Linked DNA regions of Homo sapiens. The protein of the gene in region 2 interacts with the protein of the main gene of each other region in a pairwise test. Each region holds a gene or a part of one and is shown on either strand. Other genes may lie near its edges. The genes, in order: RNF115 and CDK10.

Region 1 (3,813 bases), on a different chromosome or scaffold from region 2:
TAGGTTTTAGGTCCTTCATTTTGCTCTTTGTTTTCTACACATATTTTTTTTGATTTTAGGTTTGGGGGCACATATGTACATTTGTTACACGGACAAACTGTGTCACTGGAATTTGGTGTACTGATTATTTCGTCACCCAGCAACTGACCATAGTACAAGATAGGCAGTTTTTTGACCCTCATCCTCCTCTTACCCTCACCACCTCAAGTAAGCCCTCGTGTCCATGTTTATGCCCATGTGTACTCAATGTTTAGCTCCCACTTTTAAGTGAGAACACGTGGTACTTGGCTTTCTGTTCCTGCTTTAATTCACTTAGGATAATGACCTCCAGCTGCATCCATGTTGCTGCAAAGGACATGATTTCGGTTTTGTTTTTTTTAAATAGCTGTATAGTATCCCATGATGTATATGTACCATATTTTCTTTATTAAGTCCACCACTGATGGGCATCTAGGTTGATTCCATGTCTTTGCTCTTGTGAACAGTGCCACAATAAACATACAAGTGCATGTGTCTTTTTGGTAAAACGATTTATATTCCTCTGGGTATATACCCAGTAATGGATTGCTGGGCAGAATGGTAGTTCCGTTTTAAGTTCTTTGGGAAATCAAACTGCCTTCCACAGTGGCTGAACTAATTTACATTCTCACCGGCAGTGTATAGGCATTCCCTTTTCTCCACAACCTTGCCAACAACTGTTATTCTTTAACTTTCTAATAATAGCTATTCTGACTGGTGTGAGATGGTATCTCGCTGTGGTTTTGGTTTGCATTTCTCTGACGATTAGTAATCCTGAGCATTTTTTCATATGCTTATTGGGCTGCATATATGTCTTCTTTTGAGAAGTGCGTAGGCAAAAAAACCAAAATCATACCAACCACACTCTCGGATTATAGTGCAATTAAAATAGAAATCAATACTAAAAAGGTCTCTCAAAACTATACAATTACATGGAAATGAGACAACTTGTTCCTGAATGACTTTTCAGTAAAAAATGAAATTAAGGGAGAAATCAGAAAGTTCTTTGAAACTAATGAAAACAAAGATACAGCATACCAGAATCACTAGGATACAGTTAAAGCAGTATTAAGAGGAAAGTTTATAGCACTAAACACTTCCATCAAAAAGCTAGAAAGATCTCAAATTAACAACCTAACATCACACCTAGAGAAACTAGAAAAACAAGAACAAACCAACCCCAAAGCCAGCAGAAGAAATAACCAAAATCAGTGCTGAACTGAATGAAATTGAGATGCGAAAATCCATACAAATAAATGATAAACGAAACCAAAAGTTGGTTCTTTCAAAAAATAAAATTGATAGACCACTAGCTAGATTAATAAAGAAAAAAAGAGAGACGATCTAAATAAACACCATCAGAAATGACAAAACTGACATTACCACCAATCCCACAGAAATACAAAGAACCCTCAGAGACTATTACAAACACCTTTATGCACACAAACTAGAAAACCTAAAATTCCAGATAAATTCCTGGAAACATACAACCTCACAAGACTGAACCAGGAAGAAACTGAAATTCTGAACAGACCAATGACGAGTTCCAAAATTGAATCAGTAATAAAAAACCTGGCCAGGGCCATGGCTCATGCCTACAATCCCAGCACTTTGGGAGGCAAAGGCAGGCGGATCGCTTGAGCCTAGGAGTTCAAGACCAGGCTGGGCAACATGACGAAACCTTATCTCTCAAAAAAAAAAAAAAAAAAAAAAAAAAAAACAGCCAGGTGTGGTAGCACATACCCGTAGGTCCAGCTACTCAGGAGGCTAAGGTGGGAGGATCACCTGAGTCTGGGAAGTCGAGGCTGCAGCAGTGAGCCGTGATCATGCCACTGAACTCCAGTATGGGCGACACAGTGAGACCCTGTCTCAAAAAATAATGAAAAATAAAAAACTTACCAATCAGAAAAGGCCCTGGACCAGACGGACTCACAGCCAAACCCCACCAGACACGAAGAAGAGCTTGTACCAATCCTACTGAAATTATTCCAAAAAATCGAGGAGGGACTCTTCCCTAACCCATTCCATGAGGCCAGCAGCATTCTGATACCAAAACCTGGCAAAGACACAATGAAAAAAGAAAACTCCGGGCCAATATCCCTAATGAACACAGACACAAAAATTCTAAATAAAATACTAACAAACTGAACCAGCAGCACATTAAAAAGCTAATGCAGGCCAGTGTGGTGGCTCACACCTGTAATCTCAGCACTTTGGGGGGCCAAGGCAGGCAGATCACTTGAGGTCAGGATTTCAAAGCCAACCCGGCCAACACGGGGAAACCCCATCTCTACCAAAAATACAAAAATTAGCCAGGTCTAGTGGTGCAAACCTGTAATCCCAGGTATCTGGGAGGCTGAGGCACGAGAATCGCTTGAACCCAGGAGGCAGAGGTTGCAGTGAGCTGAGCTCGTTCCACTGCACTCCAGCCTGGGCTAAAGAGCAAGACTCCATCTCAAAAAAATAAATAAATAAAAATTAAAAGCTAATCTACCACAATCAAGTAGTCTTTACTCCTGGGATGCAAGGTTAGTTCAACATAGGCAAATCAATAAATGTGATTCATCACATAAACAGAATTAAAAACAAATACCACATATCAGGCCAGCCGCAATAGCTCATGCCTGTAACCCCAGCACTTTGGGAGGCTGAGGCAGGCAGATTGCTTAAGCCCAGAAATTTGAGACCAGCCGGGGCAACATGGCAAAATCCCATCTCTACAAAAAAGAAAAAAAAATTAGCCAGGCATGGTGGAACACACCTATCTACTACTACTCAGGAGGATATAGTGGGAGGACACATTGAGCCCACAAATTCAAGAACAGCCTGGGCAACAAGACAGAATAAATTCTGTCTCTATTTAAAAAGAAAAAAAGAGGCCGGGTGCAGTGGCTCACACCTGTAATCCCACCACTTTGGGAGGCCAAGGTGGGCATATCACAAGGTCGAGATGGAGACCATCCTGGCCAACATGGTGAAACCCCGTCTCTACTAAAAATACAAAAATTAGCTGGGCATGGTGGCACGTGCCTGTAGTCCCCACTACTTGGGAGGCCGAGGCAGGAGAACTGCTTGAACCCAGGAGGTGGAGGTTGTAGTGAACCGAGATCGCACCACTGCACTCCAGCCTGGTGACAGAGCGAGACTCAGTCTCAAAAAAAGAAAAAGGGAATATACTGTATATTTGAAAATTGCTAAGACAGATTTTAAGTGTTCTCACCACGCAAAAATAAGTATGTGAGGTAATGCATGTTAAATAGCTTGATTTAACCATTCAGTGTATACATATATCAAATCATGCTGAACACTATAAAAAATATAGTATACAACTTTTAGTTGTGAAAAAAACATGATTTATTAAATATTTCTCCCTTCTTCATCAACTCCCTCTTCCTTTTGCTACCTCACAGTCTTTGGAATTCTCAATCTGAAATGTACCCATCCCTCAAAACTCAATTTAAATCCCACTGGCCACACCAATGCTATGAAATTCCCCTCTCTGAATCCTAAAGCACATATCCTCATTCCCTTTATGCTGTTACTTTTTCTATGTTTGCCTTGTCTTTCCCCAAAAGCTGTAAGATCCTTAAGGGCAGGAGCCACATATCACTCCCTATCACCTCCAGGACACTCAGCAGAGAACCTTGGATATATTTAGGAAGAATCCGGTTATACTCAATTGTGTTAGGCCTCAATTTACAAATCAGATATGACAAATAATATATCACACCAAAAAGATCAAGAAACTTCTCCAGGCATTAACTAAGGCTTAGAAAAACACCTATTCAGCTTTTC
Region 2 (3,813 bases):
GCCCGTAGACTTCCTGCACGTTTCCTCAGCTTTGGGCTTTTTAGTATCTTTTTTTTTTTTTTTTGAGACAGAGTCTCACTCTGTCGCCCAGGCTGGAGTGCAGTGGAGCAATCCCGGCTCACTGCAAGCTCCGCCTCCCGGGTTCACGCCATTCTCCTGCCTCGGCCTCCCAAGTAGCTGGGACTACAGGCGCCCGCCACCACGCCCGGCTAATTTTTTTGTATTTTTAGTAGAGATGGGGTTTCACTGTGTTAACAAGGATGGTCTCGATCTCCTGACCTCGTGATCCGCCTGCCTCGGCCTCCCAAAGTGCTGGGATCACAGGCGTGAGCCACTGTGCCCGGCGTAGTATCTTTATTATTTTTTTTTTCATTAACTCTTACATGCTGTTGATGTTTGGACCTTTTAAAAATCGGAGTGCATGCCTGGGTGTGGTGGCTCCCACCTGTAATCCCAGCACTTTGGGAGGCCAAGGTGGGTGGATCACTTGAGCCCAAGTGTGTGAGACCAGCCTGGGCAACACAGAGAGACCCCTTCTCTATTTTAGAAAAAAACACAAATGGAGTGCGAGCAGCGGGCAGGCTGCTGCAGCTGGGAACCCCTGAGCTTTTAGTAACTCCACAGGGGCAGCAGAGTTAGGCCTCAGCCGAATTTGTGCTTCCAACTCTGCCTAGCTGTCACCCACCTGTGGATAATGAAGTTCCTGTGCAGATACTGGAGGCCCCGGAGCACCTGCAGCACGATGCACTTGACCTGTGCAGAGGGTCAGAGGTACCAGTCAGGGTGAGCCTGCAGGGAAGCCCAGCTGGGCCCTGCCACACCCACACTGGCCAGCAGGACTAGCAGTCCCAATAGCCCAGGAAACCAGTGCCCTCAGAAGGCTCTCGGCCCCGGGGCTGCACGCTCCCAGCAGCCCAGGAAACCAGTGCCCTCACAAGGCTCTTGGCCCCGGGGCTGCACTCTCCCAGCAGCCCAGAAAACCAGTGCCCTCAGAAGGCTCTCCGCCCAGGGCTCCCCGCTCCCAGCAGCCCAGGAAACCAGTGCCCTCAGAAGGCTCTCAGCCCCGGGGCTGCCTGCTCCCAACAGCCCAGGAAACCAGTGCCCTCATAAGGCTCTCGGCCCTGGGGCTGCCCGCTCCCAGCAGATGCCCCCACCACAGGAATTCCACCTCACTGAAGCTCGCTGAAACACTGGGAGGTGGAGGCAGAGGCAGCAGCAGCTCTTCAAGTCCCCAAGTGCCCTGTTTCGTTATAAATGTGCACCACAAGGGCCCATGAAGCCCATTCCCCCACCCCAGGCCCCTCTGCCACGCACCTGAGCCTCCGAGAAGGGTGTTGGCATATTCTCCAGGAGGCTGGCCAGGTCCTGCTCACAGTAACCCATCACCAGGAAGATGCTGGAAGAAACAGAAGATGCATGCCACTCTCCGGCCTTCTCCTAAGGGGTGGAAGTGGAGCCTCCCCTGCTGCAGGAGGGGACATGGGCAGGACAACCTGTGTCCCCCTCAGACAATGGGCTGAGCCAGGCGGTGAGGTGGGGTCATCTCTTCTCTGACAACCTCATGCCCAGTGACACTCAGTCCTCGCTCTGTGCAACACCTCTAGCCCAAGACACATGCTCCCTAGGGCCCAATGTGCAGACCAGGAGACCACGTACCTCTCCAGGTGGTTCCCCACAACCACCTCCTTCAGCTCCACGATGTTCGGATGACGCAGGCGGAGCAGCAGCGTGATCTCCCGCAAGCTGCTGATGGGGATGCCTGGGGAGGGAGGTGGCCTCAGCGAGCCCCACCCCAGTGATGGCGGGGAAGCCCCAACCCCAGCCACTCTTGGGCTTCACGAACACCTGATAGCAGGTGCTGCAGTGTCCCCACCTCAGGGAGAATTGGGGCGACCCCAATAAGCATTTTTTTTTTTTTGAGACGGAGTTTCGCTCGTTGCCCAGGCTGGAGTGCAATGGCACCATCTCGGCTCACCGCAACCTCTGCCTCCCGGGTTCAAGCAATTCTCCTGCCTCAGCCTCCCTAGTAGCTGGGATTACAGGCATGTGCCACCACGCCTGGCTAATTTTGTATTTTTAGTAGAGATGGGGTTTCTCCATGTTGGTCAGGCTGGTCTTGAACTGCCGACCTCAGGTGATCCGCCTGCCTCGGCCTCCCAAAGTGCTGGGATTACAGGCATGAGCCACCATGCCCGGCCCAATAAGCACTTTTAACTCTTCCTTGACCAAATACGAATCGGCACCTCTCTAAACACCGTGGACATCTATGTGGGGCATGGCAGGGCCCTGCCTGCACAGGCAGGTGCTGGGGGTGGAGGGGACAGCAGAGCTGAGCCTGCAGTGAGGTGGCCTCACCAGACAGGAGGGGGAGGAGGGGATGGAGACTGCAGAGCCCTCCTGGCAGACAGCTGAGGCTGCGTGTGGACCTGGGGGTGATGTGCTGGGCCACACCAGAACCCTCCCAGAGGCCGGCCCCCGCTACAAGCACCGTGCAGTCGCTCTGAGGAAACTTCAGGTAACTCACATCCTTCTGCCTCCTCCCAGTGCGAGGTCCCAACACCCCAATTTCCTGCTCACCATCCTTCTCCTTGTCCATCCGCACCTTCTTCAGTGCGACAATCTCATCTGTCTGGGTGTCCCGGGCCCGATCTGGAATGGAAACACATTGGTGATGACATCATCTCGATGCCCCTCGTGGGCTCCCTAGCGCTGAACGGGAGGCTCTCCCTGAGCCACAGGGGTCCCCGTTCTTTCCTCTGACAACCTCATGCCCAGTGACACTCAGTCCCCACTCTGTGCAACGCCCCTAGCCCGAGACGCGTTCCCCCGGAGGGTTTCCTCATTTGAACTGGGCAGGGGGTGCCCAACTTTGCTCTGTGCTGGACCCTGGCCTCCAGCCACTCAGTTCTGTGGCTCCAGGCTCTCCATGTCCTCCTTAGCATGCAGATCACTGCTTTGTGCTCTCTTGTAATGTCCTAAAAGCAAATAAGGTACTCTATGCAGAAAAAAGCAAACCTTATTTTGTGTGAAGATGGCTCTACAAAACATCCTGCTAATGTGTGCAGCTTCCAGAATGACCTACGCCAATTTCACATCTGTTATAACCTTTAGTTGTGTGTGGTGTTTTTGGTTTTTTTGAGACAGGGTCTCACTCTGTTGCCAAGGCTGGGGTGCAGTGGCGTGATCACAGCTCACTGCAGCCTCAAACTCCTAGGCTTGGCCGGGTGCAGTGGCTCACACCTGTAATCCCAGTGCTTTGGGAGGCCGAGGCAGGAGGATCATTTGAGCCCAGAAGTTCAAGACCAGCCTGGGCAACATAGGGAGATCCCATCTCTACCAAAAATTTAAAAATTAGCTGGGTGTGCTTATGTACTCTTGTGGTCCCAGATACTCAGGAGGCTGAGGTGGGAGGATCACTTGAGCCTAGGAGGTCGAGGCCGCAGTGAGCTATGATCATGCCACTGCACTCCAGTCTGGGCAATAGAGCAAGACCCATCTCAAAAACAAACAAAAAGAAAAAACACCTGGGCTCAGGTGACTCCTCCAGAGTTGCTGAGGTGATAGACATGAGCACCATGTCCAGCTCCTGCTGCTTCTGGAAAGTTCTGTATTTTATTTCTCTAACAGTTCTGTGTACTCTGCAGTGACACGTTTGGATTATGGGCATTAGCAACCGGATGCTTACGTTTACCCAGAAATGGTACAATGTTTGTGATAACTACATCAGGAATTGAAGTTCCTGAACAGGTTTCTGCCCTGTTTCAGAGCACAGGGTCTGAGTCCCTTCCAGCCCCAACGCGGCTGCTGCTTCGA

The links.
Region 1: the proteins of CDK10 (region 2) and RNF115 interact in a two-hybrid assay, tested with the Homo sapiens proteins (one study listed by BioGRID).

The regions. Positions count from the first base shown.
Region 1 is NC_000001.11:145,817,563-145,821,375, forward strand, and holds part of RNF115 (E3 ubiquitin-protein ligase RNF115), read right to left. Parts: intron 1-3,813. UniProt on the Homo sapiens protein: E3 ubiquitin-protein ligase that catalyzes the 'Lys-48'- and/or 'Lys-63'-linked polyubiquitination of various substrates and thereby plays a role in a number of signaling pathways including autophagy, innate immunity, cell proliferation and cell death.
Region 2 is NC_000016.10:89,689,389-89,693,201, reverse strand, and holds part of CDK10 (cyclin-dependent kinase 10), read right to left. Parts: intron 2,650-3,813; coding exon 2,578-2,649; intron 1,760-2,577; coding exon 1,657-1,759; intron 1,397-1,656; coding exon 1,315-1,396; intron 754-1,314; coding exon 686-753; intron 1-685. UniProt on the Homo sapiens protein: Cyclin-dependent kinase that phosphorylates the transcription factor ETS2 (in vitro) and positively controls its proteasomal degradation (in cells).